Regions from separate parts of the Homo sapiens genome. Here regions 1 and 2 are each linked to region 3. The links come from fine-mapping of genetic effects on gene expression. A gene starts in region 3. Each other region holds a variant in brackets. All regions are shown on one strand. Distances are between the middles of the regions.

Region 1 (10,692 bases), 83 kb before region 3:
ACCTGAGCCTTGGGAGGTAAAGGCTGCAGTGAGCCGTGATTGTGCCAGTGCACTCCAGGCTGGGTGACAAAATGAGAACTTGTCTCAAAACAAACAAACAAAAAACCCTTGGCCAGGCGCAGTGGCTCACGTCTGTAATCCCAGCACTTTGGGAGGCCGAAGTGGGTGGATCACCTGAGGTCAGGAGTTCGAGACCAGCCTGGCCAACATGGCAAAACCCCATCACTACTAAAAATACAAAAGTTAGCCAGGTGTAGTGGCACACACCTGTAGTCCCAGCTACTAGGGAGGCTGAGGCAGGAGAATGGCTTGAACCAGGGAGGCGGAGGTTGCAATGAGCTGAGATTGGGCCACTGCACTCCAGCATGGGTGACAGCAAGACTCAGTCTCAAAAACAAAAAACAAAACAAAACAAAAAACCCTCAAGAGATCTTCATATGAAGACCTTAGCATGGCCACGCACAGTGGCTCACGCCTGTAATCCCAGCACTTTGGGAGGCGAAGGCAGGTGGATCACAAGGTCAAGAGATAGAGACCATCCTGGCCAACATGGTGAAACCCCGTCTCTACTAAAAATACAAAAATTAGCTGGGCGTGGTGGCACGTGCCTGTAGTCCCAGCTACTCTGGAGGCTGAGGCAGGAGAATCGCTTGAACCTGGGAGGCAGAGGTTGCAGTGAGCCAAGATCCTGCCACTGCACTCCAGGCTGGGTGACAGAGTGAGACTCCGTCTCAAAAAAACAAACAAAAAACCTTAGGATAACTTTTCCAGAAGAGCTGAATCTCATGTTGCACCATTTTTTAAAACACAGGCCTAAATCCTAAAGGCTATTTATCAGGTATAAAAGATGCTAAATCAAAAAACCAAATTTTACGCCTGTGCAGTGGTTTATACCTGTAATCCCAGCACTTTGGGAGGCTGAGGTGGGAGGATTGCTTGAGCCCAGGAGTTTGAGACCAGCCTGAGCAACATGGCACAACCCCCATCTCTACAAAAAAAACTAAAAAAAAACCAAACAAAAAAACCAAGCCTGGTAGCATCTGCCTGTCGTCCCTGCTACTCAGGAGACCAAGATGGGAAGAGTGCTTGGGCCCAGGAGGTCAAGGCTGCAGTAAGCCATATTCACGCCATTACACTCCAGCATAGGAAACAGAGAGAGACCCTATTTCAAAAAGAAAAATTTTTTTTAAATTAACTCAAAATGGATCAAAGGCCTAAATGTAAGATCTAAAACTACAATATACTGTGAAGCAAGCATAGGAGAAAAGCTTCATGACATTGAATTTGCAATAATTTATTGGCTATGACACTAAAAGCACAGACAACAAAAGAAAATGATAAAGTAAACTACATCAAAGTTGAAGACGACCAAATCAATAGAGTGAAAAGGCAACCTATGAAAAGGAAGAAAATATTTGCAGGTCATCTATCTGATGAGAGGTTAATATTCAGAATATATAATAAACTCTTACAACTCAACAACAAAATACAAACAGCCTGATTAATAAGTGGGCAAGGATCACCTGAGGTCAGGAATTTGAGACCAGCCTGACCAACATGGTGAAACTCCATCTCTACTAAAAATACAAAAAATTAGTGCACCGTTGCACTCCAGCCTGGGCAACAGAGCGAGACTACGTCTCAAAAACAAACAAACAGAAAATAAGTGTTGGTGAGGATGTGAAGAAATTAGAACTCTCTGAACTGTTGGTGGGAATATAATATGATGCAGCTGCTGTGAAAAACAGTATGCCCTAACCTCAAAAACTTAAAAATAGAATTGCCATATGACCTAGTAATTCCACTACTGGGTATATACCAAAAAAAAGTGAACACAGGGTCTCAAAGAGATATTTGTATACCCACATTCACAGCAGCATTATTCACAAAAGCCAAAAGGTAGAAGCAATTCAAGTGTCCATTAACAGATGAACAGATAAACAAAATGCAGTGTATACGTATAATGGAATGTTATTCACCTTTAAAAAGGAAGGAAATTCTGATACACATGCCGCAACATGGATGAACCTTCAAGACATTAAAAGTGAAATAAGCCAGACATAAAAGGACAAATATCACGATTCCACTTACATGGAATACCTAGAGTAGTCAAATTCACAGAGATAAAAAATAGAATGGTGGTTGCCAGGGACTCTGGAATGGGAAGTTGTTATTTAATGATTATGGAGATTCAATGTAAGATTTAAAAAAAAAAAAAAAAAAGGCCAGGAGGTGCTTCATGCCTGTAATACCAGCACTTTGGGAGGCTGAGACTATCTAAAAGGGAGGACACTCCTGTTAACAAAGATCTTTCAAGATTAAGGAAACCCCAGCACCTCGGGATGTTGAGGCAGGCAGATCACCTGAGGTCAGGAGTTCGAGACCAGCCTGGCCAACATGGTGAAACCCCGTCTGTACTAAAAATACAAAAAATTAGCTGGGCTTGGTGGCGGGCGCCTGTAATCCCAGCTACTCGGGAGGCTGAGGCAGGACAATCGCTTGAACCTGGGAGGCAGAGGTCACAGTGAGTCGAGATAGCGTTACTGCACTCCAGCCCAGGCGACGGTGAGACTCCGTCTCAAAAAAACAAAACAAAACAAAACAAAAACAAATTCAAAGTACAAATCATGTTCTGTGACACCACATTGGCTTGAACCCTCTCCTCCTTCCTCTCTTGCGTAGCATTTTACATGCACCCTCTTCCTCTCCAGCATTTCCAATCTCTCACCCTCTCTACTGGTTCCCTGTTTCTTTGCCTTTAAAACAGATTTTCCTAGATAGTAAGATTGGGGTGAAAAATATTTTAATAAATAAAAAAATAGATCTCCATAATCTGTTTTTTTGTTTGTTTTTTGAGACAGACTTCCGCTCTTATTGCCCAGGGTGGAGTGCAATGGGGCAATCTCAGCTCACTGCAACCTCTGCCTCCCAGGTTCAAGTGATTCTCCTGCCTCAGCCTCCCAAGTAGCTGGGATTTTAGGCATGCGCCACCATGCCCAGCTAATTTTGTATTTTTAGTAGAGATGGGGTTTCATCACGTTGGTCAGGCTGGTCTTGAACTCCTGACCTCAGGTGATCTGCCTGCCTCAACATCCCAAGGTGCTGGGATTTCCTTAATCCTGAAAGATCTTTGTTAACAGGAATGTCCTCCCTTTTAGATAGTCTCACCTTCTCTTCACTATCAAACTTTTCGGTCAAAATCTGGGTTCTGCCGGGCGTGGGGGCTCACGCCTGTAATCCCAGCACTTTGGGAGGCCAAGGCAGGCGGATCACGAGGTCAGGAGATCAAGACCATCCTGGCTAACACAGTGAAACCCTGTCTCTACTAAAAATACAAAAATTAGCCGGGCGTGGTGGCGGGCGCCTATAGTCCCAGCTACTTGGGAGGCTGAGGCAGGAGAATGGTGTGAACCCGGGAGGTGGAGCTTGACAGTGAGCCGAGATCGCGCCACTGCACTCCAGCCTGGGTGACAAGAGTGAGACTCCTTCTCAAAAAAATAAATAAAATAAAATAAAATAAAATAAAATAAAATAAAATAAAATAAAAATCTGGGTTCTATAGAAGGTATTCTATCTCTTTTACCAGAAACCATGCTCTTTTCTCAGTCATTAACTTTAGCTGTGCTACTCTAGTTACCCAAGGGTTTACTACCTTTTAAATTTCTCTTTTCTTGACTCTCACAACTAAAATTTCCCTTTCCTTGGCTTCCACAACTAAACTCCTGTAAATCTTCTTGTAACTCCCAACCACTCCTCCTGTTACCTATAATTCCCTCCACAAGCCTCTTTCCAACCCTTCATCGCAAGCTGTCCCCAGGGCTCAGTCCTTGGAATCATAGTCTTCTATTTACACATTCTTTAAGAGGGCTTGGCCATTTTCATAGCCCCAACTATAGCCTTATAAGCAGGATGACTCTAAAATTTAGACTCAGTTCAAGAGTTAGTTCCAAGTTTATATCCTCTTACTGGAAACTGCCTGAAATGCCTAGCTGTCATTTCAAATTCAGCACAAATTACATATTTTTGGAGGTAGTGTAACAGTTAAACTTTGACTTTTTTGGGGGGTTGGGCGCAGAGTTTCGCTCTTGTCCCCCAAGCTGGAGTGCAATAGCGTGATCTTGGCTCACTGCAACCTCCATCTCCCGGGTTCAAGCAATTCTCATGCCTCAACTCCCTAGTAGCTGGGATTACAGGCGCACGCCACCACACCTGGCTAATTATGACATTTTTAGCAGAGGCAGGGTTTCACCATGTTGGCCAGGCTGGTCTTGAACTCCTGACCTCAAGTGATCCACCGGCCTCAGCCTCCCAAAGTGCTGGGATTACAGGAGTAAGCCACGGCACCCAGCCTAAACTTTGACTTCTCTTCACTTGGTTAAATTCTATCATTCCTTCAGCTCAATCATCATCTTCTCAGGGAGACATATCCAGACTCCAATTAGCCAATGTCCAAGCATCTCTCTTTCAAAGCTCTCACCATGGCTACGTCCTCCACTCGACCATGTCTTTTAGAAGGGGGAGCTGAGGGTATCATCATCACCACATTCCCAGCACCTACAATTAAGGTGCTGGCACACAGTAAATAATATTTACCCAAAATTTGTCAAACGAATGAACAAAAGCACTGTAAATTTTTCCTAGGTAAGAAGTCCCCATCAATCCCACTTCTATCTCCTTTGCTACTAGTCTCCTTTGGCCCAAGTCTGTTTTGAGGTCTCATTGTAACAGCAGCTTTCTCAGCGCCTTCAATTTTCCTCACTTCAATTCATAGTGCCCCGAGTAATTTCCTTAACTATTTCATCATGACATTCTCCTACCCAAGAATGTTTATAGACCTCCTAGTTCCCCCGAAAACAAAACTAAGTTAATATAGACATTTCAATAGACAGCCAGCTTTGACAAGAACAGTAATGCCAGCTGCTCAGGACCCTTCCCACTAGCCATGCACGGCTTCGAAAAACATTGACTGTTTTCTTTGACTCTCCTTTATTCTCCTTGCAGACAATAATATGAACTTGGAAATGTTACTATTAATTGCATCATAAATGCCTAACATTAATTAACGAAGTTTTGTTAGCAATACATTTATAAACCATCTCTTAGGGTATCTTTCTTACAAAGCATGATTAATATTATTTATAACACTCTTACCAATTAGTTTCAGTTTCACTTTAGAAACCTATCCTTAAATCCTAGGGAGCTAAGTAAGCTATGAAGAGGCAAAGGCATAAGAATGATATAATGAACTCTGGGGACTTGGGGTAGAGGGTGGGAAGCGGTTGAGGAATAAAAAAACCACACACTGGGGGCTGGGCACGGTGGCTCACACCTGTAATCCCAGCACTTCGGGAGGCTGAGGCGGGTGGTCACAAGGTCAAGAGATCGAGACTACCCTGGCCAACATGATGAAACCCCATCTCTACTAAAAATACAAAAATTAGCTGGGTGTGGTGGTGCGCGCCTGTAGTCCCAGCTACTTGGGAGGCTGAGGCAGGAGAATCTATTGAATCTGGGAGGCAGAGGTTGCAGTGAGCTGAGATTGTGCCACTGCACTCCAGCCTGGCGACAGAGCGAGACTTGTAAAAACAAACAAACAACAAAAAAACCCCTACACACTGGGTACAGTGTACAATGCTCGAGTAATGGGTGGACCAAAATCTCAGAAATCACCACTAAAGAAAGAACTTATTCATGTAACCAAACACCACATGTTCCCCAAAAATCTATTGAAATAAAAAAAATTTTTAAAACCCTATCTTTAAATCGCAGATTCAAAAACTCTAAGTAAAATTGACCAGGCACAGTGAGTGACTCATGTCTGTAATCCCAGCACTGTGGAAGGCCAAGGCAGGCAGATCACCTGAGCTCAGGAGTTCAAGACTGGTCTGGCCAACATGGTGAAACCCCATCTCTACTAAAAATACAAAAAATTACCTGGGCGTGGTGGCACACACCTGTAGTCCCAGCTACTCGGGAGACTGAGGCACGAGAATCACTTGAACCCAGGAGGTGGAGGCTGCAGTGATCTGAGATTACAGCAGTGCACTGCAGCCTGGGCAACAGAGCGAGACTCTGTCTCAAAAAAACAAAAAAGAGGCCGGGCCTGGTGGCTCACGCCTATAATCCCAGCACTTTGGGAAGCTGAGATGGGCGGATCATGAGGTCATGAGATTGAGACCATCCTGGCTAACAGGGTGAAACCTCGT[CTG/C]TACTAAAACTACAAAAAAAATTAGCCGGGCATGGTAGTGTGCGCCTGTAGTCCCAGCTACTCAGGAGGCTGAGGCAGGAGAATGGCGTGAACTCAGGAGGCAGAGCTTGCAGTGAGCCAAGATCACGCTACTGTACTCCAGCCTGGGTGACAGAGCCTGAGACTCCGTCTCAAAAAAAAAAAAAAAAAAGGCCTCTAAGTAAAATTATGACAAATAAAGTTTAGTTATCTAAAGTAAGATTTGGCCGGATGAGGTGGCTCATGCCTGTAATCTCAACACTTTGGGAGGCCAAGGTGGGTAGACCACTTGAGGTCAGGAGTTCAAGACCAGCCTGGCCATTATGATAAAACCCTGTTCCTACTGAAAATACAAAAATTAGCCAGGTGTAGTGGCGGGTGCCTGTAATCCCAGCTACTTGGGGGGCCGAAGCAGGAGAACTGCTTGAACTCGGGAGGCAAAGGCTGTAGTGAGCCGAGATCACACCACTGCACTCTAGCCTGGACAACAGAGCAAGACTCTGTATCGGAAAAAAAAAAAAAAAACAAGAACAGGTGGTAAACAGGGTGAATCCTATGGTAAGTGAATTTCATCTCAATGAGTTAGAAAGAGCTGATAAGGAAAAAAACAAAAACAAAAACAAAGGCAAGGCCCTAGGAAACGAATGGAACCACAAGATAAAAGGAACCTGGGTCTCTGGATCACCAGATGACTGCATCACAGTCCCCCACAACTTCTCTTGTGTTCAACCACTGATATTTTTGGGTTTTTTATGGAAGTTAGTTTTGTCCTAATTAGCACATGAACTGAAAGGAAATCTTTTATCTTGTACACTGGTAAAGGGCTTATTATTAGCTCAACTCAATTACAAGACAAGTTGACCACCTTGACACACAATGAAATTATATCATGCTTAAATATTTTTCCATTGGGCAATGGAAAGATAATTTTTTTTTTGAGACAGGGTCTCGCTCTGTCACCCAAGCTGGAGTGCAGTGGCACAATCATAACTCACTGCAGCCTCAATCTCCTCAGCTCAAACAATCCTCTCACCTCAGCCTCCAGAGCAGCTGGGACTACAGGAGCCTGCCACCACGCCTGGCTAATTTTTTTGTTTTAATAAAGTCAGAACTTTGGATCAAAATACACACACATTTGTAATTCTAATTTTTTTTTTTTTGAAATGTAGTCTCGCTATTGTTGCCCAGGCTAGAGTGCAGTGGCGTGATCTCAGCTAACTGCAACCTCCACTTCCTGGGTTCAAGCAATTCTGCCTCAGCCTACCAAGTAGCTGGGATTACAGCCTCCCACCACCACACCCTGCTAATTTTTGTATTATCAGTAGAGATGGGGTTTCACCATGTTCGTCAGTCTGGTCTCAACTCCTGACCTCAGGTGATCTGCCTGCCTCAGCCTACCAAAGTGCTGAGATTATAGGCGTGAGCCACCGCACCTGGCCTCATTAATCTCTCTTTCTAACAAATTCTCCCCATTCCTTCCCACATTTAATATGTCAGAAGTTAAAATCCAAGAAGTAATGATTTCTACTTCCACTCATGAGGATTAACTACTATGGAAACTATCTCCCTTACTCCCATTGTGAACGAGACACAATATATGACGTAACCTTCAGTCACTGGACAACAGGCAGCATTAACTATGATCCCTGAGAGAAGGCAACAAACCAGGTGAGCCGATGATTACCTAGCTTACTGTATGGAAGTGGCTTCCCGGCTGCAACACAGGGAGAGGGAACCCAAACAGAATTGGATAGTCTTGCTGAAAAGAGGAGAGAAATTAAACTTTAGGGTATCTAAAGCAGCTAGAATTTGAAAGATTTGAATAGTGGAACCAAGAAAGAGTGAGAATAAAGAGTTCTGTACTGAGAATGGTCACAGGAGATTTGTGGAGGGATCCCCTTGAATCTAATAAACAATTACCACACTTGTAAAGCAGGAATATGACTAATAACAAAACTTAATCAATAGAAAAAGATCAAGAAATGACAGACATGATGGAATTAGCACATGAGGACCTCAAACAGCTATTACGGCTGGGCACGGTGGCTCACGCCTGTAATCCCAGCATTTCGGGAGGCCGAAGTGGGCGATCACGAGGTCAAGAGATCAAGACCATCCTGGCCAACACAGTGAAACCCCGTCTCCACTAAAAATACAAAAATTAGCTGGGCATTGTGGCACGTGCCTGTAGTCCGGAGGCTGAGGCAGGAGAATCACTTGAACCTGGGAGGCGGAGGTTGCAGTGAGCTGAGACTACACCACTGCACTCCAGCCTGGCGACACAGTGAGACTCCGCTTCAAAAAAGAAAAAAACAGCTATTGCAAGTACACTAAAGGGTGTAAAGAAAAACATGAACATAATGGATAATCGAATATATAAATAAAACACCCAAATCAAACGTCTATAGGTGAAATATACTTAAAATACAAATTCACTGGATGGTATTAATAGCTGACTGAAAACTACAAAAGAAAACATCAGTGAACCTGAAGATCAGCAATAGCAATTATCCAAAATGAAACACAGAGAGAAAAAAAACAGGGGGAGCGTTGGTGGGGGGATTAAAAACAGAGCCCACTTGTGGGACAATAGCAATCAATTTAACCTACATAAGATTAGAGCCCAGGAGAGAAAGAGGGACAAAAAAACTGTCTGAAGAAATAGTGGGCAAATAGTATGTGATCAAATATTTGTTGATGGATTTAAATAAAAATGGTAGGGGCATAAAAATATAAAAAAAATAGCATGAAAATATGTTATCTATGTAAATGTGAAAAATAACAGAGAAGCAATGTGGTAACATGGAAAGACAGAGGCTTTGAATTTTAAAAGATTTGAATTTAAGCTTTTTGGATTTGAATTTAAGCTCTGTTTCTTTCTTTCTTTTTTTTTGAGACAGGGTCTCACTCTGATGTCCAGGTTACCCATTCTGTTGCCACTGCAGCCTCGACTTCCCAGGCTCAGGTGATGCTCCCACCTCAGCCTCACAAGTAGCCAGGACTACAGGCTCTCACCACCACACTGACTAATTTTTGTATGTTTTGTAGAGATGAGGTTTCGCCATGTTGCCCAGGCTGATCTCAAACTCCTAGGCTCAGGAAATCCACCCGCCTTAGCCTCCCAAAGTGCTCGGATTACAGACATGAGCCACCACACTTGGCCTGTTCTTAACATTATGTGACTTGGGCAAATAAAAATCTATCTGATTCGTGGTTTTTCACCTGTAAAATAAGTCTCATATCTGTCATATCTACCACACATGGTTATCAAGAGCTACAAATAAGATTAAAAGGGTTCCATAAACTGAAAGCTAAATAGCAACTTGACTAAGAATAATCAAATAGGGAAAAGGTTGTTAGACCAATATCCTTTTTTTTTTTTAAATCAAATGTATTTGGTGAGTGGCCGGGCATGGTGGCTCATGCTTGTAATGCCAGCACTTTGGGAGGCTGAGGGGGGTGGATAACTTCAAGTCAGGAGTTCGAGACCAGCCTGGCCAACATGGTGAAACCCCGTCTCTACAAAAAGAACAACAACAACAACAAAAAATTAGACGGGCGTGGTGGCGTGCACCTGTAATCCCAGCTACTCGAGAGGCTGAGGCAGGAGAATCACTTGAACCCAGGAGGCAGAGGTTGCAGTGAGCCAAGATTGCGCCACTGCACTCCAGCCTGGGTGAAAGAGTGAAACTCTCTGTCTCAAAAAAAAAAAAAGAACAATTATGTTAAACCATATGAAAATGTTTTTATAAGTCAAATATGATGAAATATTGGTAATTTCTTATAGTTCATTCAATCTAACAAAAATGAAGGAAGAAAACAATGCCTAAAGCAGACCTAGCTGGCAGGGGAAGAGAAGCAGCGGGCTGTGCTGAGGGAAGGGCACTGGGAAATATTTTGGTGCAGCAAATTCCCAAACCACTGATATAAAATATTTTCCCAAAAATAACACTTACATATAAGCCCTGTAAACTCTGAAGCTGTAACTCTGTACTCTCCAAAAGCCCACACCACTACACTATTTATTTGCGGGTGTGGGGCAGCAAGATGTGTATGGAGCCAGTGCGAAGCAGAGGCAAGCAGGCTGAGAATCTGGGCTAAAGAATGGGAATTTCCACAAGAGGAAGGGAAACACAACAATGTCTTCTGACTTCTGCTTTCAGTGCTCTAATTTCTCCTATTTCACATATACTCTCAAGTTGAAAAGGAAAGTATACCAATAGTAAAAATTCTTGGCCGAGCACGGTGGTACACGCCTGTGGTCCCAGCTGCTCAGGAGGCTGAGGCAGGAGAATTGCTTGAACACGGGAAGCAGAGGTTGCAGTGAGCTGAAATCCAGCCAATGCACTCCAGCCTAGGTGACAGAGTGAGATTCTGTTTCATAAATAAATAAATAAATAATAAAAATATACCGATAGTACAAATTCTTGAAACTTCACTTTTGTTGTTGTTGTTGTTTTTTTGAG
Region 2 (10,692 bases), 190 kb before region 3:
GGGAGGCATTACCATCTCCAGCTCCTCCACACGGAGCTGCCTGCGGCACTTCAGGGACACCCTGTGCTCCTTGGCTTCCTGCAGAGTGTCATTGCGCACGGTCGTGCTCAGGCAGATCACCACGTCCACCCTGCAGACGAAAGAAGCTTGAGGCTGGCTGGGGCCACACAAGGGCAGATGGCCTGAGAGCTGGGCTTGGGGGGGGTCACACCATTAAGAATTCAAGATGCCCTTTGGGGGAATGTCTTTCCTGTAAGGCTCACTGTATTTTTTTTCAGGGTGCTAAAAGCTGCAATTTGACTGTGGGTGTCATGAAAGGCAGGCAGCAGCATGAATGCTGACTACATTCCTGACAGAAGGGGAAGCCACACAGGGCACATGTGTGCAACGACAGTTCAACATCTGTGTTAAAAACATGTGACCACAGAGGAATGCTGCTCTTAACTCTAGGACTGTACTTTTGACCTACTGTGAAACTCACTCCTGAAAGGTAGAGAAACCTGAGCAAATTGGGAATTTGGTTTGTATGAGGGCAAGTGTTCTAGAAATGGTCCTTTCAAAGAGCAACATGGAAGAATTTGGACAGTCACGCTGAAAAAGCTCATCAGTTTCCTCAAAAAGACTTAATTCTTAAATGAATAAAGATTCTGTTTCTTCACTAAATATCTAATCCAATACAAAAACTGCTGCATCTTAGATGAGATGACATAACGGGACGACGCAGGGAAGAGGTCAGTTCGCCTCTTTCACTCACACTGCACCCTGCTTCTCTAAGTACACAATCCAGCCCTACTTGGTCAGTTAGATGGCCTGACCTGGAAAAATTAAAAATGCTCCTTTAGCCTATGGGACCTCCATGTGAGAACTACCATCGCCAGATGCTCTGTCCAGACAGTCCGAGTGTTTGCCACGCTAATCAAAGGAGAGATGCGGGAGGCCTCCAGGGCTAACCCCACGAGGCAGCAGGAGGGCTGCCTAACATCTCGCATACTCATTCCGGAGCTAAGAGGAACTTCGGGAAAGTGGAATGAAACAACTACAAGCTACATACTTCTTTTTTATGTTTGGGCAAAGCTTCAACACGTCCTCCTTGCAGGCCATTTTAAACTTGTAAGAAAACCGAAAATCCTTCATCTGCACCTGAAAGGTAAAGAGAAAGAAAGTCAGAAGTTTTGTGGCAACTTGTGGTCAGTAGTGGTAGGGCGCACTTTTTCATATAGCTCTCACAAGCCTGTTTACAAGACCCTGCATGGCTTGACCCACACGTGAGACATCACGACCTGCTCATCTCTCCAGTACTCCCCCTACAACAGGCAGGCTTCCTTCCTTCCTTCCCTCCCTCCCTCCTTCCTTCCTTTCCTTCCTTCCTTCCCTCCCTCCCTCCTTCCTTCCTTTCCTTCTTTCCTTCCCTCCTTCCTTCCTTCCCTCCTTCCTTCCTTCCCTCCCTCCTTCCTTCCTTCCCTCCCTCCTTCCATCCATCCATCCTAAATAAAAATAGGACATATATTTGTAATTTTTTTTTTTTTTTTTTTTTGACAGAGCCTCTCTCTTGTCATCCAGGCTGGAGTGCAGTTGTGCGATCTCGGCTCACTGCAACCTCTGCCTCCCGGGTTCAAGTGATTCTCCTGCCTCAGTCTCCCGAGTAGCTGGGATTACAGGCACCCGCCATCACGCCAGGCTAATTTTGTATTTTTTGTAGAGACAGGGTTTCACCATGTTAGCCAGGTTGGTCTCGAGTTCCTGACCTCAGGTGATCAGCCTGCCACAGCCTCCCAAAGTGCTGGAATTACAGGCGTGAGCCACCATGCCCGGCTGGAAAAAATGATTTTTTTGTTGTTGCTGTTGAGATGGAATCTTGCTCTGTTGCCCAGGCTGGAGCGCAGTGGCGATCTCGGCTCACTACAACCTCCGCCTCCCAGGTTCAAGCAATTCTCCTGCCTCAGCCTTTGAAACAGCTGGGATTACAGGTGTGTGCCACCATGCCTGGCTAATTTTGTATTTTCAGTAGAGACGGAGTTTCACCATGTTGCTCAGGTTGGTCTTGAACTCCTGGCCTCAAGTGATCCACCCACCTCAGCCTCCCAAAGTGCTGGGATTACAGGTGTGAGCCACCACGCCTGGCTGGAAAAAAATGACTTTTAACAGAACATCAGAGGTGCTCTGATGTTCCAAAAAAGGAAAGGATTCAGTCAACATCCAGGCAGCTATGATGGGATATTGGCAGCCAGGTGTCACTGACCAGCTGGAAGTGGGTAACTCCGATGGCACACTTCTCGTTCATGTCCTTCTGGTGTTTGTTCTGTATCAGACACTCCATCAGGTCCCCAGAGTCTATCTGGTTATCTGCCACATCCTGGGGAAGACAGCATGCATTTACACTTCATTGGTAACAATTAATGAACAAAACTTGTAGCCCAGTCCGAAACAAATGCAAGCAAGGTTAGTTCTAGAAGCCCTCACAAAAAAAAGACACACCATAAATTGTAATCAAAATAAGCCTGAAGAATCACAATGGTATACATTCAGTGGCATAAAACTAACACAGCACTGTGTTCCGTATAAGACATGATATACGCTTTTTTTTTCACTTTCCGAAAAGCAGCTGGCTTTTGGGACAATATCTAACATAGCCTCCCAACTGTCAGATCCTAATGGTTCCTGGGTATGTTTCACTCCCACAATTTAAATAGTTCAGTAAATGAATATGAAATAGTCAGAATTCACTCAATATTGAGGTACTAGGAGACAGTTGGAAGAAGGAGCCACTATTACTGCTAACAATTCCTGGGCAGATGCTAACAATTCCTAGGCTGATGTACTGGAATCAACCCTGCATACTAATGGGGGTTTCCCTGTTCCATCTCTTCTTAAAAAGGGCAACTCAGTAACTGCTGCTGGCCACATACCTGTTTTTACCTACAAAAGCTAATCAAACACAGGTTCCAGGATGGTAGCATCTCTCTCTCGATCTTGTTTACTTTTTCTTTTTTAGACAGGGTCTCACTCTGTTGCTTAGGCTGGAGTGCAGTGGCACAATCACGGCTCACTGCAGCCTCGACCTCCTGAGCTCAAGTGATCCTCCCACCTCTGCCCCCTAGGTAACTGGAACTACAGGTGTGTACCACCACGCCCAGCTAATTTTTTCTATTTTTTGTAGAGACAGAGTTTTGCCATGTTGCCCAGGCTGGTCTTGAAATCCTGGGCTCAAGTGCTCCTCCTTGGCTTCAAAGTGCTGGGATTACAGGTATTGGTCACCACACCCGGCCTGTTTACATTTTTAATTTTAACTTGTCAAAGCTGGCTAACACTCAAGAGTAATACATGCTGCAGACAGAGGTGAGTCTGAGATACTCAGGGGAGAGTCCCTGTCAATTTGTTTCTGTTTTTAACCCTTGCTCCTCCAGACATCACTTACGTGGCAGAAGTTCTGAATTATGGGCTCACAGGCTCTCATCAGCAAGGCTTCTATTTGAATATCCTGTAGAAAATTAAATATATTAATACTTCTGCTTTAGAAAGAGCCAGGGTGGAGGAGGAGCAGTTTCTCTTTCTGAATCAGTAATATCTGATGGGCAAATAATCTAATACATACTTTTGGAAACGATTCTAGTATTTGAAGTAGATAGCCCCAGAATAAATATAGAACTGCTCCTCCGTTATACTTTGAAAGGCAAATTTTTAAAGACATATTCCCTTTCGGCCTGAACAAATGAGAAGGCAGAATTAAGAAAAGTGAGGTAAAAACACATGTAGCAATAACATTAGAGTATGCAAAGCCTTTGCAGATTTTCCCAAAATGCTAAGTAGTTCAAAATGAAAACAGGGGTAACTGATATCCATCTTCAGTTTATAAGCTCATAAGCCAGAGCACTGCCCTCAAAGCAGATGCCAAACCACTGTTACTGGGGAACACATACTAATAATGCCTTTAAAGAGAGAAACCCGTGCAACACTAGCTCCTGAAAAAACACCTTCCTTTAAAGAGCTATACACCCAGACTGCTCTCATAAGTCCATGATGACAATGATAATGTGAGAGATGACGACGAAATGAGAGAAGGCAATGAACTTCTGAAAACTAGAAAGCAAAAAAGAACTGGTTGAGAAACGTAATTTTACATTATGACAATTCAAATAGAGTACTAAAAGGTTTAAGACAAAATGGTAGTTCCCCACTTCTCTGATTTCTGGCCCCACAAAATAACTTTAACATGTTTAGCTGCCCTCCTCTGTATTTCTAAATAACATCCCAGTGCTTTATGAGGGTTTCTAATCCCCCTTTTTTTTTTTCTTTTTATTGAGACGGAGTCTGGCTCTGTGGCCCAGGCGGGAGTGCAATGGTGCAATCTCGGCTCACTGCAACCTCCGCCTCCCGGGTTCAAGTGATCCTCCTGCCTCAGCCTCCCAAGTACCTGGCACTACAGGCATGTTTTACCACGCCCAGCTAATTTTTGTATTTTTAGTAGAAACGGGGTTTCACCATGTTGGCCAGGATGGTCTTGACCTTTTTTTTTTTTTTTTTTGAGACATAGAGTCTCGCTCTGTTGCTCGGGCTGGAGTGCAGTGGCGTGATCTCGGCTCACTGGAAGCTCCGCCTCCCGGGTTCACGCCACTCTCCTGCCTCAGCCTCCCGAGTAGCTGGGACTACAGGCACCCGCCACCACACCTGACTAATTTTTTTGTATTTTTAGTACAGACGGGGTTTCACCGTGTTAGCCAGGATGGTCTCGATCTCCTGACCTTGTGATCCGCCCGCCTCGCCTCCCAAAGTGCTGGGATTACAGGTGTGAGCCACTGCACCTGGCCTCTAATCCCATTTTTAAAATATTTTAGTGGGTTTCAGGATGGAACAGGGATAAACATACGTATTCAATCTTCCATGCTTAGCTGGAAGTCCTCAGCTTTTATGTTCTGAAACACACAAACATTACCAAATGACCTAACTAAAAGAGCGAGGGATGAGAGAACGGGAATGTGTAGATTGCTCTTGAATGTGACTGTGATGTGAAGTACTGCTGCTATTTTTTTTTTTTTTTTGAAACACAGTCTCCCACTCTGTTGCCCAGGCTGGAGTACAGTGGCGCAATCTAGGCTTACTGCAACCTCCGCCTCCCGGGTTCAAGTGATTCTCCTGCCTCAGCCTCCCAAGTACGTGGCACTACAGGCGTGTTTCACCACACCCAGCTAATTTTTGTATTTTTAGTAGAGACGGGGTTTCACTATGTTTGGCAAGCTGGTCTCGAACTCCTGACCTCGAGATCCGCCTGCCTCGGCCTCTCAAAGTGCTGGGATTCAAGGCGTGAGCCACCGCTCCCGGCCGTACAGCTGCTATCTTAAGGGAGAAACAGAGGCAAGTCTAATGACTATGATAAACCTAATTTATGAAGAAAACCAAAGGGCTGTATAGAGTGTTGTTCTAGAGAAATGAGGGAAGGAGCTCACAAAGCAACACAATATACTTCTTTATAAAGCAAACATGGAAAATTTGATCAGGTTTCTTTTGATTGACAGAAAATCTGCACTCTCAGGAGTCTAGAAACAGTAGAATCAAACACAAAAGGCCAGGATGCTGGCAGCCACTCTCCTCCAATGAGTAAGCTGCATACCACTTACCTCTGATTCTAACTCAGTGAGGTTGCCAACTATATCTCTACACTCCACCACCAAGTCATCCAGATGGTCCTGAAGGCACTCCAGCTCCTGCAAATATAAAGGCAAGCCACTGGCATTTATCAGTCACATACATGAACAAGGCAAGGGGAGATATCAGCGTCATGACACTTCCCTTTTCAGTGGTCCTCCTTTCTCTTCTTTTTAAAATTACCTCACTGAACAGGACACAAAAGCTTTGTTTAATTCCCCAGACTGAGA[T/C]TGTTGAAAAGATAATTACTTCATGTAGCAGGTTGGTTATGAGGGCCAAGTGGGCACAAGAGCCATGCAAAGGCTGGGCATGATGGCTCACACCTTTGATCCCAGCACTTTGGGAGGCTGAAGTGGGCAGATCACCTGGGGTCAGGAGTTCGAGACCAGCCTGGCCAACACAGTGAAACCCCATCCCTACTAAAAATACAAAAATTACCCGGGTGTGGTGGTGGGTGCCTGTAATCCCAGCAACTCAGGAGGCTAAGGCAGGAGAATTGCTTGAACCCAGGAGGCGGGGGCTGCAGTAAGCCAGGATCGTGCCACTGCACTGCAGCCTGGGCAACAAGAGTGAAACTCCGTCTCAAAAAAAAAAAAAAAAAAAAAAAAGAGCTGTGCAAATCCCTCAGAAGACCAAATCTACAAGTGCAAGGAGAATCAATCTTCAAGTGTCCTCAAAGTCTAAAAACCTTATCAGGCCTTGATTCTATTTTCAATCTGTGCTTTGATAATTTCTCATCTCTCATTTTAAATATGCACTTTAATAATGATCATCAGACAAATTCACAGTGAAGAGCACAGATTATTTTAAGACTCTTTATTGGCAAAGTAATTGGGAACCAGGGGTCTGGAACACAGGATACAACTGATAGCTCCTGCAAGTCAGATCTGGGATTCTAACTCCAGTACACATCAAAAGGGTCCTCTGAAGAAAAACAAGTGAACACACTAGGGTTTGGGTACTTAAAAGCTATCTTGTGTGGGCTTTGGAAACCGAGCTGGAGCTATCTGTAGCATTAGTCTATTACTATTCCTTCTAGAGGTTTACAGGTTTAGAGGTTTCAAGTATAATATCAGCTCACTTTCACAAAGCATATCAACAGCTATTTCTTAGCAAAGTGCTCTGTTAAAGGATCAAGTTTAACTTACTATTCTGCAAGAATCTCTCTGTTTCAGAATTAGAATGTGAGGGGAAGAGAGGAGTTGTAGGAATTATACAACAGCCAGAATGGAAGAAGAAGAAGAAATAAAAAAGCTAAAGGAAAATACCCCAAACTTTTGGGAGTAAAATAAATGGCTAAGAGAAACATCCTATTAATAGAATCCTGGCTGGTCTCAGTGGCTCACACCTGTAATCCTAGCACTTTGGGAGGCCAAGACAGGTGGATTGCCTGAGCTCAGGAGTTAGAGACCAGCATGGGTAACATGGTGAAACCCTGTCTCTACTAAAATACAAAAAATCAGGTGGGTGTGGTGGCAGGTGCCTGTAATCCCAGTTACTAAGGAGTCTGGGGCACAAGAATTGCTTGAACCCGGGAGGCAGAGGTTGCAGTGAGCCGAGATCGTGCCACTGCACTCCAGCATGGGTGACAAAGTGAAACTGTCTCAAAATAAAAAAAAAAAAGAATTCTTAAGTTTAGCTTCTCCATGACGGGCTGCAATGTAGTGCAGCTTTCTAAAGTTTACTTTACTCGGGGTTCTAAAGGAAACTATTTTCTGGGATTCCAAATCACCATATCCCTTGTTTCATTGGACAGAGGCAACAGAAAGCTCAACTATAAGCATTTTCTAACAATATACCCAACAGAACTGTAGCAGGCTCAGGAAACAGACTGCTGAACATGATAGTCCTATGCTCAACAGACCTGAGTAGGCAACCATGTTTCTCCTTTAAAATGTCCAATTCCTGTACGTGTGACTTTTTCATACTGTACTTCCAGAGGGGGTTTTGTAGTGGTACAAATGGAACCCAGAAACCTGAGTTCACTCCTTATTTATGTGGCTTTAAACACGCAGTATTCCTACTGCTGAGTATCCTGCATTCAGATGGAAGACAGCTAGCTTCCCACATGACCTGCAGTCATGCATCTTTCCTTCTTTCCCTTAAACTGGGACACAATCCTAAGGAGCCAATCACAGCACTCAGGGAATTTTTGGGGGCTGCTCCTTCCCTCTGCTTCCTAGATGGAGAGGCTATATAATGAACTGAACTGAATTTTAGGTAAGGGAATGTATACACTTAACTTCTCTGAGCTTCAATTTGTCAACCAGGTGAGAAAAAATTCCATTTCTACATGTTTTTTGGGACTGTTCTAGGGCATGCCCACTATTCATGCAGACCAGTACTCACATACGCACAGATTTACACCCTGCTTATCTCAAAAGGACTTAATGGAGAAAATGAATTAAAAATGAGTAAAATGAATAAAGAAGAGAAACAAAAAGGAAAGGAAAGAGGATGTGAAATGGAGCCAGTAGTAAGCTTTCTACAAAAATGCCTACCATGAAATCTTATATACCTGTAAGAGGCAGGCCATACCATTGGCTCTAGAAGTTTTAATAAGCAACAGGAAGAGGGAAAATAATCAATTACAAAATACAATAACTATAATGCAAACACAAACTCACTGCCAACTATTCCTGATACAAAGACCAGAGAGAAAATTTTCCTGAGAATTTCTTCCAGAGAAAATATTGAACAATACAACAAATCACATCTGTAAGGTAAAGAGAGATGGATTTTATGGTGTTTGTACTCTGCATAAAATGTTAAACATTAACATCATCATTATTGTAAGACAAACAGAAAGCGATGTCACCTACCTGTCCAGTCTCTGTTTTCTCACTGCACCATTTTCCCAGATCAATCAGGCACTTATCCTGGAGGGCAGGATCCAGCTTGACATCCATGGCACGCTGGTGTAGGATCCTTTGGACTTCAGCTCGGCACTCCCGTGAGAGCTGCATGAGAAAAAATGAGCTAAATACTTGAAAGGTAACAAAACAAAAACACAAAGATATGAGATAAACCTGCTATGAGGAAACTAACAAATAACCCTGTATTTTATCTCCCAAATTTTATACCTCAAATATCTTCCAGAATAAAAATTAAATGTTGCGGCCAGGTGCGGTGGCTCACGCATGTAATCCCAGCACTTTGGGAGGTCGAGGCGGGCGGATCACCTGAGGTCGGGAGTTTGAGACCAGCCTGACCTACATGGAGAAACCCTGTCTCTACTAAACACACAAAATTAGCCAGGCATGGTGGCACATGCCTGTAATCCTAGCTACTCGGGAGGCTGAGGCAGAAGAATCGCTTGAACCCGGGAGGTGGACATTGTGGTGAGCTGAGATTGCACTACTGCACTCCAGCCTGGGCAACAAGAGCGAAACTCCGTCTCAAAAAAATAAATAAATAAATAAATAAATAAATAAATAAATAAAATGTGCAAGAGGCTTCGAAAAGCCCATATCTTTAGCAATGCGATTATACATATTCAGCAGTTTCTAATATACTATATAAACAACATTCTTTTATGACAGTATCCTGATAAAAGTGAACTGGCTTCATTCAGACTAGGTTAGTTGGAAAGTTTTGTGTTTGTTGTTTTGCTTAGCAAAACTAATGTGTCAGTCTATGAACACCAGGTAGAAGGTCAGATCCAATTCAAGAGAGCATATACACTTGACTCAGGAGAAATGAGTTCAAATTGACCTAAATCAGAAAAAGCAGGAAAATGTAGATATAACATTATGAGATAGGACTGGACTCTTCTAGATGAGCTATGAAGAATTAGCAGAGGGTAAAGCAGGTGAAAACTAGTATTTTTCCAAGGGCCATGACAAAGCTGTTATTGACAGATACAGTTAGTCTCTCTTGCAAAAAAAGAAAAAAAAGCCAGCATACCTGGGGCAGGAGGGATGGAAAGTAACTGTTTAATGAACACAGGGTTTCCTTTTGGAGTCATGGAGTGTTTTGAAACTAGACAGACATGATGACCACACAACACTGTAAATGTACTAAATGTCACTGAATTTTTCTCTTTAAAATGGTTAAGACCAGGAGCGGTGGCTCACACCTGTAATCCCAGCTCTTTGGGAGGCTGAGGCGGGCAGATCACCTGAGGTCTGGAGTTCGAGACCAGCCTGACCAATATGGAGAAACCCCATCTCTACTAAAAATACAAAAATTAGCCGGGCGTAGTGGCGCATGCCTGTAATCCCAGCTAATCTGGAGGGTGAGGCAGGAGGCGGAGATTGTGGTGAGCCGAGATCACACCACTGCACTCCAGCCTGGGCCAACAAGAGTGAAACTCCGTCTCAAAAAAAAAAAAAAGGGGGGGGTTATTTTGGCCAGGCGCAGTGGCTCACACCTCTAATCCCAGCACTTTGGGAGGCCCAGGTGAGTGGATCACCTGAGGTCAGGAGTTCAAGACCAACCTGGCCAACATGGAGAAACCCCGTCTCTATTAAAAATCCAAAAAAAAAAAAAAAAAAAAAAAAAAAGCCAGGCATGACGGCAGGCACCCGTAATCCCAGCTACTCGGGAGGCTGAGGCAGGAGAATCACTTGAGCCAGGAGGAAGAGGTTGCAGTGAGCCAAGATCACACCACTGCACTCCAGCCTGGGGTGCAGTGAGACACATTCAAGAGTGAGGCTTTGTCTCAAAAAAAAAAAAAAAAAAGGTTAATTTTATGTTATGTGAATTTCACCTCAATTTAAAAAAAAAAAGAAAAGAAAACCAGCACCACAGACTCCAACTCTTTCTTATTTAAAAGAGAATAAACCTCCTACCCCCTAGTCACTATAGTGACCAGAAAGATGCCGGGATGTGGGAGCCCCCATGGTTAATGAGAGGCTCATTATATGGAGAGAAAAAAAAAAAAAAAACAAATTCCCACGTTTTCTCACACAGCAGTATAAACACTGGGTTAGGGAGCAGCAACTGATGTATGCCATTTCCTTCTGAGTCCCCTCATTCTGGATTTGAGATAGCCAGGCTTTTGCATTAAGCTCAGAAGGGGTATTTCTAAGGATGGATGAGAAGTGATAC
Region 3 (9,920 bases):
CACCTAGTTTTTAAAGTACATCAGTATAACTTATCCCCTTAATTACTTTGTGAAGTAAGGCACGTGCTTTTATTTTCATCTGACTTATGAGGAAATGGGGGTTCAACTAATAGTTATTAAGCACCTGTTATGCAGACAAGACACCCTAGAGGCAAAAACAGATAAGACCCCATGTATCAGAGTTTAGATTCTAGCAAGTAAGATGTCAATAAACAAATACATGAAAAAAATTATAGATTATGATGTTTGGGGTTGAGGAGACAAAGAGGACCAACTAAGACACAATTGTGAGGGAAGTACTCTTTTAAAGAGTGAAAATTGGGCTGAGGCATGAAGGATTAAAAGCAGCTGGCTATGCAAAGAGCCAAGAAGAGTCTCAGAAGGAAATCAGTGCATAGGTCCCTGATGAGCATGGGTTTCACTGATGAACAGGACACCATTATTAAAGGGCCTATGGGCCTTGGTAAGGAGTTTCTTCTATGTTAGGAATGCACTGTAGGGGTGCAAGAGCATAAGCTAGGTGACCAGTGTAGAGGCTATTGTGGGAGTCCAGACCAGAGGTCAGAGAGACCTAGGCAAGAGTGGTAGCAGTGGAGATGAAAACAAACAGACAGCTTTAAGAATCTTCAGAATGGTCATGCTTCTTTTTTTTTTTTTTTGAGATGGAGTCTCGCTCTGTTGCCCAGGCTGGAGTGCAGTGGCGCGATCTCGGCTCACTGCAAGCTCCGCCTCCCGGGTTCACGCCATTCTCCTGCCTCAGCCTCCCGAGTAGCTGGGATTACAGGTGCCTGCCACCACGCCTGGCTAATTTTTTGTATTTTTAGTACAGCCGGGGTTTCACTGTGTTAGCCAGGATGGTCTCGATCCCCTGACCTGGTGATCTGCCAGCCTCAGCCTCCCAAAGTGCTCGGATTATAGGCATGAGCCACCGCGCCCGGCCAATACTCATGTTTCTTAAAATCATCAAAGCAGATTAAACCACCTGAGGAACAGAATGACAGAAGAGGGCTGAAGACTAAAGTCAGAGACACTACTGTTAAAAGTACAACAGAGTAAAAGAAGCCAGTTAAGGAAGATTATAAAGTAGGAGGAAACATGGGAATGTGGTGTCTTGGAAAAACAATGTTTCAAGGAAGGAACAATTGAGTGTCAAGTGCTACTGGGGGGAAGAACGGCCGCTAGATTTGGCAACATGAGGATGACAGGTGACCTAAAAAAGCAGTTTCCCTGAAGTGGTGGGGTCAGAGGCCAGACTGGTGCAGGCTGAATAAATGGAAGGAATTCTAATAAACATAGTGGACGAAGTACATATATGTATCTTTCTCTCTCCACTCCAGTCATTCCTAAAACCCACGAACATGACCCCCACAACCTGAGACATTTTTTTAAGAAAGGATAAATTAACCAGGACGACACAAATGCAAACAGGGTATGATATGCAAACCAGTTTTTTAAGGCCATAAAGGAGAAACTGATGATTGATGACTGCTTAGCAGAGCCAAAAGATAAAACTCAAAGCCTGCAAAGGGCACAGTGGTTGGGGTGAGGTGTGTTATTGAGAAGCAAGCTGATTCCCACTAAAGGGACTGTAAAAACCAGGTACCACAAAAGGCAATATTGAAAGATGGCGCTAAAAGAGAAGGGCTGGTTAAAAGCCAGTAAAGCAGTTAGCTTGACTCCTACTCAAACACCAGCCAGCTAAAACAAAACACAGAACAAAGCCCTTCTCCCCCTATGCACGAGAAAACTGGAGGTTTGAACCACACAGGCTTACACTCAGGATGGAGAGTGGCACAGTACTGAAAATAAGTGGGAAAGAAAGTCTGCAAACTGAACAATGTGAGATACTTCAAGTTTTAAACATTTTTTGTATAGATGGGGTTTCCCACGTTGCCTAGGCTGGTCTTCAACTCCTCGGCTCAAGCAACCCTTCTGCCTCAGCCTCCCAAAGTGCTGGGATTACAGGAGTGAGCTACTGCAGCTGCCTAACTAAAAGCTTTTAATGTTTCTAGGGTACAACGACAGTCTCCCAAGAATTGTGTGTCAGAACATAAGGCCCAAGCTACTTCTAGATGTACTCAAGAGACATTAAGCAACTCAGCCTTCAGGAAGACAAAGGGGAGAAATGGACTAAAAAGAGCAGAATCTAGGGGGCCGCACTGTCTACTCCCATATGGTTATTTAAATTAAATAAAAATCAAATTCGGCCAGGAGCTGTGGCCCACGCCTATAATCCCAGCACTTTGGGAGACTGAGGCAGGTAGCTGGAGACCAGGAGTTGGAGACCAGCCTGGGCAACACGGCAAAACCCCGTCTCTACAAAAAATACAAAAAAATTAGCCAGCCGTGATGGTGTGCACCTGTGGTCCTAGCTACTTGGGAGGCTGAGGCAGGAGAACCCCTTGAACCCGGAGAGTGGAGGTTACATTGAGCCGAGATCACGCCACTGCACTCCAGACCGGGAGAGAGAGTAAGACTCCGTCTAAAAAAAGAAAAAAGAAAGAAATAAAATAAGTTCCTTTGTCGTGCAGGTCACATTTCAACTGCTAGAAACACACATAGGGCGGGTGACTCCCATACTGGACAGCAGAAATACAGAACACTTTTCTCGTCGCACAAAGTTCTATGGAACGGTGCAGTTCTGGAGCTGAAGCTTCCTAACCACTGTAGGCCAGTCGGAGGTGCCTAGAACGAGAGACCATGGGCTGGGCACCCCAAACCTTGAGGATGTCACACAAACGCTGTTTTTTATGTGTGCTGTGAGCGGTGCTTAAAATGTCAACCTCAGACTTGTCATCTTTGTTACTCAGGTTTCAATCAATGGCCACAACAGGCAGGACGAAAGCCCCTCAATTAAAGGTTGAGAAGAGGTGGGCGGGGGAAGTGTTCAAATCTTTGCTCTGGCCGGTGCAGAGGGTCACGCCTGTGATCCCTGGACACTGAAATGCCCAGGCGGATGGATCACTTACGCTCTGGTGTTCCAGACCAGCTTGGGCAACACAGTGAAATTCCCATCTCTACCAAAAAAGAAAAATAGAACAGGTCAGGCGCGGTGGCTCACACCTGTAATCCCAGCACTTTGGGAAGCCGAGGGCAGACCACTTGAGGTCGGAGTCCCAGAATGGCCAATATGGTGAAACCCCGTCTCCACTAAAAATACAAAAACTACCCGGGTGTGGTGGCGCATGCCTGTAATCCCAGCTACTTGGGAGGCTGAGGCAGGAGAATCGCTTGAACCCGGGAGGCAGAGGTTGCAGTGAGCCGAGATCGCACCACTGCACTCCAGCAGGGGCAACAAAGCGAGACTCTATCTCAAAAAAAGAAAGAAAAAAGAAAAATAAAACAATGAGCCGGGCGTGGTGGCGCGCACCTGTGGTCCCAGCTATTGCGGGAAGCCGAGGTGGGAGGATCCCTGGGGCCCGGGAGTTCGAGACTGCAGTGAGCTCTTCCAGCCTGGGTGCAACAGGGAGACTTTTCTTTCTTTCTTTCTTTCTTTTTTTGAGATGGAGTTTCACTCTTGTTGCCCAGGCTGGAGTGCAATGGCGTGATCTCAGCTCACTGCAACCTCGGCCTCCCGGGTTCAAGCGATTCTCCTGCCTCAGCCTCCCGAGTAGCTGGGAAATGGGGTTTCTCCATGTTGGTCAGGCTGGTCTCGAACTCCTGGCCTCAGGTGATCCGACTGCCTCGGCCTCCCAAAGTGCTGGGATTACAGGCCTGAGCCACCGCTTTTCTCTTTATAACACCTTTTTCTCTTTATAACAGGAAAAAGGGAGGAAGAGAGAGGGAGAGGGAGAGGCGGAGGGGGAAGAGGAGGGAGAGGGAGACGGGAGGGGAAGGGAGAGAGGGAAAGAAGGAAATTAAATCCCTGTTCTTTTACTACATGGGGAAAGAAAGACATAGATAGATTAGATAGACAGATTAGATAGATAGATAGATAGATAGATAGATAGATAGATAGATTGATTAGATACATAGATATTAAATCCCTGTTCTTTTACTACATGGGGAAACTTTGGGCGGGTTTCCTAAACTCGGCTCAACTTGTTCTCCTGTAAAACAGGGATAATACAAGTCTTTACTCCACAGTTTCCGTGATGAAATTAAAAATGAAGTTCTTCCATCAACTTTAAAGTGATGAAGTAATCGGCGCTCAGAGCGGGCGCAGGCAACGCCGCTGAGGAGCCCGAGGCTAGGCTCTCGGGGGAAGGGCCGGGCGACCTCCCACCCCGGCCAGGGCAGGCCCCGCAGCAGCGAACTCGGCTCCTTCAGTGATCGCCCCGAGCTCTCGCCTGCCCAGCCCCCACGCCCAGCAACCCAGATACGCGCGGGGGTTCGGGCTCCTTAGCCCCGACCACTGGCGCCGCCCCGAGGGCCCGAATCCCCTCAGGCCGCCGGGTTCCAAGCCCGCGTGCAGCCCACCTCGTGGGGTGTCTCCTGAATCCCAATCCAGGAATCAGGCGTGGGGAGGTTTATCCCGAAGCTAGAGGCCCAAGGCCTGAGGAGAAGCAACACCCCTCCTCACCTGAAACCAGCAGGCCGCGGCCGGGCTCGCGAGCCCGCCGAAGACTCGGTAGTTACCTCGGCCGCACTCCGAATGCACCTACGCCAACTGCCACTTCCGGAGCCGCTCAAGCTCCCGCCAGAGCCGCCGGCAGGCATGCTCCTATTGGACAGAAGCCCTACGCTGTGGCCAATACCCACTCTTCTTCTTCAATGGGTCCCCCGATAGCTGAAGCAGCGGTGCTCTCATTGGCTGGTAGTTCGTCCTGACGAGGCGGGACCGCGCTTGAGGAAGCCTCCTACAATTGGCAGGAATCTACGTCCGTCACCTTGCACCCGCCCCGGAAAAAATGGGAGGTTTTTTTGTTTTTTTTTTGTTTGGTTTTTTTTTTTTTTTTTAGCGCGTTTTATTTGAACTTTCTGGCGGGAGAAAGTTATATGATTTCTCGGTCCATTTTGGAATGGGGATGATGATATTAAAACTGACTCCTGCTGCTTATCCCTAACGCTTTAGTGAAGGAGTTATCTGTATCCAAAGGATAGCAGCTAATCGAATAATTTCAAAATATTTCAATATTTTGAATTTCGGAGCCTGTAAAGAGGCGTAGGACAGTCCAGTTCATATGTATCCTCTCATGGGGTTGAAGAGCTCACGCAAAATACTTTGCCTACATAATCTCTTCAATCTCAAACCGCTGCAAGGGATCTGAGCTACTGAACAGTCTCAAATCACTTGTTAGGGCCGCCGCTCGCCGCCAGCGCCAAAAGAAAGGGGCCCCCGGAATTCTCCAGCTACGTACGAGGAGCGCGAGCCCACAGCCGTCTCGGCTCCGAGCCCGCCGCCGGCAGGAAAGCCACAAAGAAAACTGATAAACCCAGACAAGATGATAAAGACGATCTAGATGTAACAGAACTCACTAATGAAGATCCTTTGGATCAGCTTGTGAAATACGGAGTGAATTGTGGTCCTATTGTGGGAACAACCAGGAAGCTGTATGAGAAATAGCTTTTGAAACTGAGGGAGCAAGGAACAGAATCAAGATCGTCTCCTTCAGCAACAATTTCTTCTTCAGCAGAAAATACAAGGCAGAATGGAAGTAATGATTCTGACAGATATGGTGAAAATGAAGAAGACTCTAAATTGGGCTCAAGTTTGAGAAGAGAGAACCGCTAAACAGGGGAGTAAAGACTCCAGTAACCCTCAAGCAAAGAAGAGTTGAGCACAAGGAGAGCTATTCTCAAGCTGGAATAACTGGGACTGAATGGACAAGTGGATCTTCAAAAGGCGGACCTCTGCAGGCATTATTAACTAGGGAATCTACAAGAGGGTCAAGAAGAACTCCAAGCAAAAGGGTGCACGCTTCAGAATATTTTCGTATAGATGGAGCAGTAATTTCAGCGAGTACTCCCATAGCTGAAACTATAATTGCTTCAAACAACGAATCCTTAATTGTCAATAGGGTGACTGGAAATTTCAAGCATGCATTTCCTATTCTGCCAGTCACTGAATTCTCAGACATACCCAGAAGAACACCAAAGAAACCATTGACAAGAGCTGAAGTGGGAGAAAAAAAACACAGGAAAGAAGAGTAGAAAGGGATATTCTTAAGGAAATGTTCCCCTATGAAGCAACTACACCAACAAGAATTAGTGCTAGTTGCCGCAGAACAATCAAAGGAGCTGCAGGCCGGCCATTAGAACTCAGTGATTTGAGGATGGAGGAGTCGTTTTCATCTACATATGTTCCTAAGTATGTTCCCTTGGCAGACGTCAAGTGAGAAAATACAAAAAAAAGGGACGCTCCATTCCTGTATGGATAAAAATTTTGCTGTTTGTTGTTGTGGCAGTTTTTTTGTGTGTGTTTGGTCTATCAAGCTATGGAAACCAACCATGTAAATCCCTTCTCTAATATTCTTCCTGATGACTCTAGAAAACCCAACTGAATGGTATCTCTTTGGCACATTCAACTTGGTCTTGTATTTTTAGTAACTGTGTTGAAGAACATTCGTGTACGCTTTTTGACTCCAAGAACTAAAAATAATGTGATTTTGCCTCAATAAACGTAGTATTCCATTGGAAAGCAAACAAAAGATATATGAATGGACTTTATTAAAATGTTTTTGAACTTTGGACTAGTAGGAGATCACTTTGTGCCATATGAATAATCTTTTTTAGCTCTAGAACTTTTTTTTTTTTAGACAGGGTCTCGCTCTGTTGCCCAGGCTGGAGTGCAATGGCATGATTTCGGCTCACTGCAACCTCCACCTCCTGGGTTCAAGTGATTCTCCTGCCTCAGCCTCCTGAGTAGCTGGGATCACAGGCACGTGCCACTACGCCCACCTAATTTTTGTATTTTTAGTAGCGGTGGGGTTTCACTATGTTGGCCAGGCTGGTCCTGAACTCCTGACCTCAGGTGATCCACCCGCCTTGGCCTCCCAAAGTGCTGGGATTATAGGCGTGAGCCACCGCGCCCGGCCATAATGTTCATGATCTTGATAGAGTTTGGATTACTCATATGTATGCATTTGTCAAAACTCATCAAATGCTATCTTTAAGATTTGTGCATTTCACACAAATTTTTCACAGCAAAAACTTACCTTCCCACCCCCCCGCCAAAAAAAAGCTCATAGAGAGATAAACTCCAGTTAATGGCATAAATGCTGAAGTGTTTAGGAATGAAGTGCATAAAAAATCAGGATGAATTAATGGCTAGAAAGAGGCACAAGCAGATAAATAGGTATGTGATAAAACAAATATAATAAATTGTTAGTTGTAGAATTTAGGTGGTAGGTATATGGTTGTTCAGAGTACAATTGTACTGACTTTTCTGTGTATCTGGAAATTTTCATACATAAGTGTTGGGAAAAATCAGGTACAGGGCCTTGGAAGGCATCCTGTGCAAGTAAAAGGCCCTGAAGATTAAGCTTTATCAGGCTTATAGTAAATTCACCTATAATAATTGTGGGTCTGCCAGAGTATGAATAATTCATCTACCAGGGAGAATTTTCACTGTAACTCCTACAGTAAATAGAACAAATGATTTTAAAGATGAAAACAGTGGCTGGGCATGGTGGCTCATGCCTGTAATCCCAGCACTTTGGGAGGACAAGGTGGGCGGATCCCTTGAGGTCAGGAGTTCCAGACCAGCAGACCCTGCCTCTGAAAAAAAAGAAAAAAGAAAAAAGGAAGGAAGGAAAATAGTAAAATAGTAATACCTGCCAGTAAGTTCTACAAAATAATCATATTAAGTTTATATTCTTCTGCATTTTTTATTTATAGAAAAAAACCATGTTCTAGGTTTTAAAAAAATCAAGGATAAGTAAAAGATAAAAACATAAGGCCGAGTGTGGTGGCTTATGCCTGTAATCCCAGCACTTTGGGAGGCCAAGGTGGGAGTATCACTTGCGCCCAGAAGTTCAAGACTAGCCTAGGCAACACAGTGAAACCCTGTCTCATAATAATAATAATAATAGTAATAGAAATCAGCCATAATTTTCTTCACCAGAGATGATTACTAGAATACAAGACCCAAATGTATTTTTATTGCTGTCTTCTCAGTGATTGAAACAATGGACAGCACATTTGCTGTTGAATGATTTAGAATGAGTTCTGAAAAAAATGTAACTTTAAAGACAGGGATTAGTGTATCCTAGGCAAAGCACACACCATGAACAAAGGTATAAGATCTAAAATGAGACCAGGTGTGGTGGCTCATGTCTGTAACCCCAGCACTTTGGGAGGCCGAGGTGGGCAGATCACTTGAGGTCAGGAGTTCGAGACCAGCCTGACCAACATGGTGAAATGCTGTCTCTACTAAAAATACAAAAATTAGCCAGGTGTGGTGGCACACACCTGTAATCCCAGACACTTGGGAGGCTGAGACAGGAGAATCGCTTGAACCTGCAAGGCGGAGGTTGCAGTGAGCCGAGATTGCGCCACTGCACTCCAGCCTGGCCAACAAGAGTGAAACTCTAGGCCGGGCGCGGTGGCTCACACCTGTAATCCCAGCACTTCAGGAGGCCGAGGCGGGTGGATCACCTGAGGTCAGGAGTTCGAGACCAGCCTGACCAACATGGTGAAACCCCCATCTCTACTAAAAAATACAAAAAGTTAGCCGGGTGTGATGGTGAGCACCTGTAATCCCAACTACTTAGGAGGCTGAGGCAGGAGAATCGCTTGAACCCAGGAGGCAGAGGTTCCAGTGAGCCAAGATTGCACCACTGCACTCCAGCCTGGGCGTGACAGAGCAAGACTCCGTCTTAAAAAAAGAAATCTAGAATGAAAGCACCACAAACATGGGTTTGAGTCTGGCAGGGATTAAAATCTGGCAGCTCCTATGTGGACATATTTTGTTTGTCTTATCAGCATTAAAATAATTTTTTTTTTGAGACAGGGTCTCACTCTGTCACTCAGGCTGGAGTGCAGTGGTGCAATCATGCCTCACTGCAACCTCCGCCTCCCAGGTTCAAACGATTCTCATGCCTCAGCCTCCCGAGTAGCTGGGATTACAGGCATGTGGCAGCCACACCCAGCTAATTTTTGTATTTTTAGTAGAAACAGGGCTTCACCATGTTGGCAAGGCTGGTCTCGAACTCCTGACCTCAGATGATCCTCCCGCCTGGGCCTCCCAAAGCGCTGGGATTTCAGGCATGAGTCACCGTGCCCAGCCTAAAATAATTTTTAATGAGATACTGACCTTTAAAAATAAGGACATCACAGAAAAATCCAACTTTCTAGCTCTTTTGACAAAATGGAAAGCTCTAGAAATGTTGGGATCCCATTCTATGTGACAAAGTATAGACTGGAGTTGAGGAGACGCTGTTCTTGCTCATCTGCCCACTGAAGCCCCCTCCAGGTTCAAATCATTCATTTAGTTTCCTTCCTAGGCCCTATGGGTATTAGAGTTTGCAATCTCTGGTAGGAGAACTCTGGCATCTGATTGGAAAGTCAGGTTGGAAAGTATGGTATGGGGGATATCCATAAGGCTATGGATATCCAAATAGGAAGTTTGTACTTGATTCCTTGGGCAAGAGGAAGAATTGAACAGTTTCTGCCTAGTTACTTCTGTTGTGTAAAAAACCACCACAAAACTTAGTGTTAAGACAACAGTAATTTATTTAGCTCCTGATTGTGTGAATGGGCAATTTGGGCTGGGATCTGCTTGAGTGGTTCTTCTGGTCTTGATTGGCCTCATTCATGTGTTAGCTGCCATGTTGGTTGGGCTAGTATGACTTCAGCTAGGAAAGCATGTTTCTGCTTCATGTGGTCTCTCATTCTCCAGCATGCTCACTCAACATGTTCATGGCTGGGTAAGGTTCCAACAGACATTTATAAGGCCTCTTGAAACCTAGGCTTGGAACTGGCATACAGTCACTTCTTCCACATTCTATTGATCAAATCAAGTCACAGTGCCAGCCCAG

Direction of the effects. Positions count from the first base shown, and alleles are read on the strand shown. Sizes are in standard deviations (SD) of each study's normalised expression. Not every link is listed here.
For the expression in whole blood of the gene that starts at base 4,614 in region 3, T is the low allele of the variant in region 2 and C is the other (large effect, 0.90 SD a copy in TwinsUK).

Evidence for each region. PIP is the estimated chance that this variant, and not a neighbour inherited with it, causes the effect.
Region 1: its variant is fine-mapped to the expression of RFWD3 in thyroid (GTEx, PIP 0.94).
Region 2: its variant is fine-mapped to the expression of RFWD3 in whole blood (TwinsUK, PIP 0.95).

What each region holds. Positions count from the first base shown.
Region 1 is chr16:74,579,330-74,590,021 of GRCh38, forward strand. All of the region lies in intron 1 of GLG1 (golgi glycoprotein 1), which reads right to left. Among named protein-coding and RNA genes, the nearest start is that of GLG1, 22 kb to the right of the region's middle. The variant CTG/C (reference allele first, on the strand shown) is at 6,207.
Region 2 is chr16:74,468,934-74,479,625 of GRCh38, forward strand. GLG1 (golgi glycoprotein 1) reads right to left here. Exons shown (of 26, transcript NM_001145667.2): 12 at 8,463-8,600; 13 at 5,613-5,699; 14 at 3,416-3,478; 15 at 2,240-2,353; 16 at 1,052-1,140; 17 at 13-130. Among named protein-coding and RNA genes, the nearest start is that of CLEC18B, 53 kb to the left of the region's middle. The variant T/C (reference allele first, on the strand shown) is at 5,871.
Region 3 is chr16:74,662,264-74,672,183 of GRCh38, forward strand. It overlaps RFWD3 (ring finger and WD repeat domain 3), which reads right to left and starts at 4,614. Exons shown (of 13, transcript NM_018124.4): 1 at 4,523-4,614. It overlaps MLKL (mixed lineage kinase domain like pseudokinase), which reads right to left. Exons shown (of 11, transcript NM_152649.4): 11 at 9,592-9,920. It also overlaps the pseudogene TMPOP2. RefSeq lists a silencer at 4,144-4,293.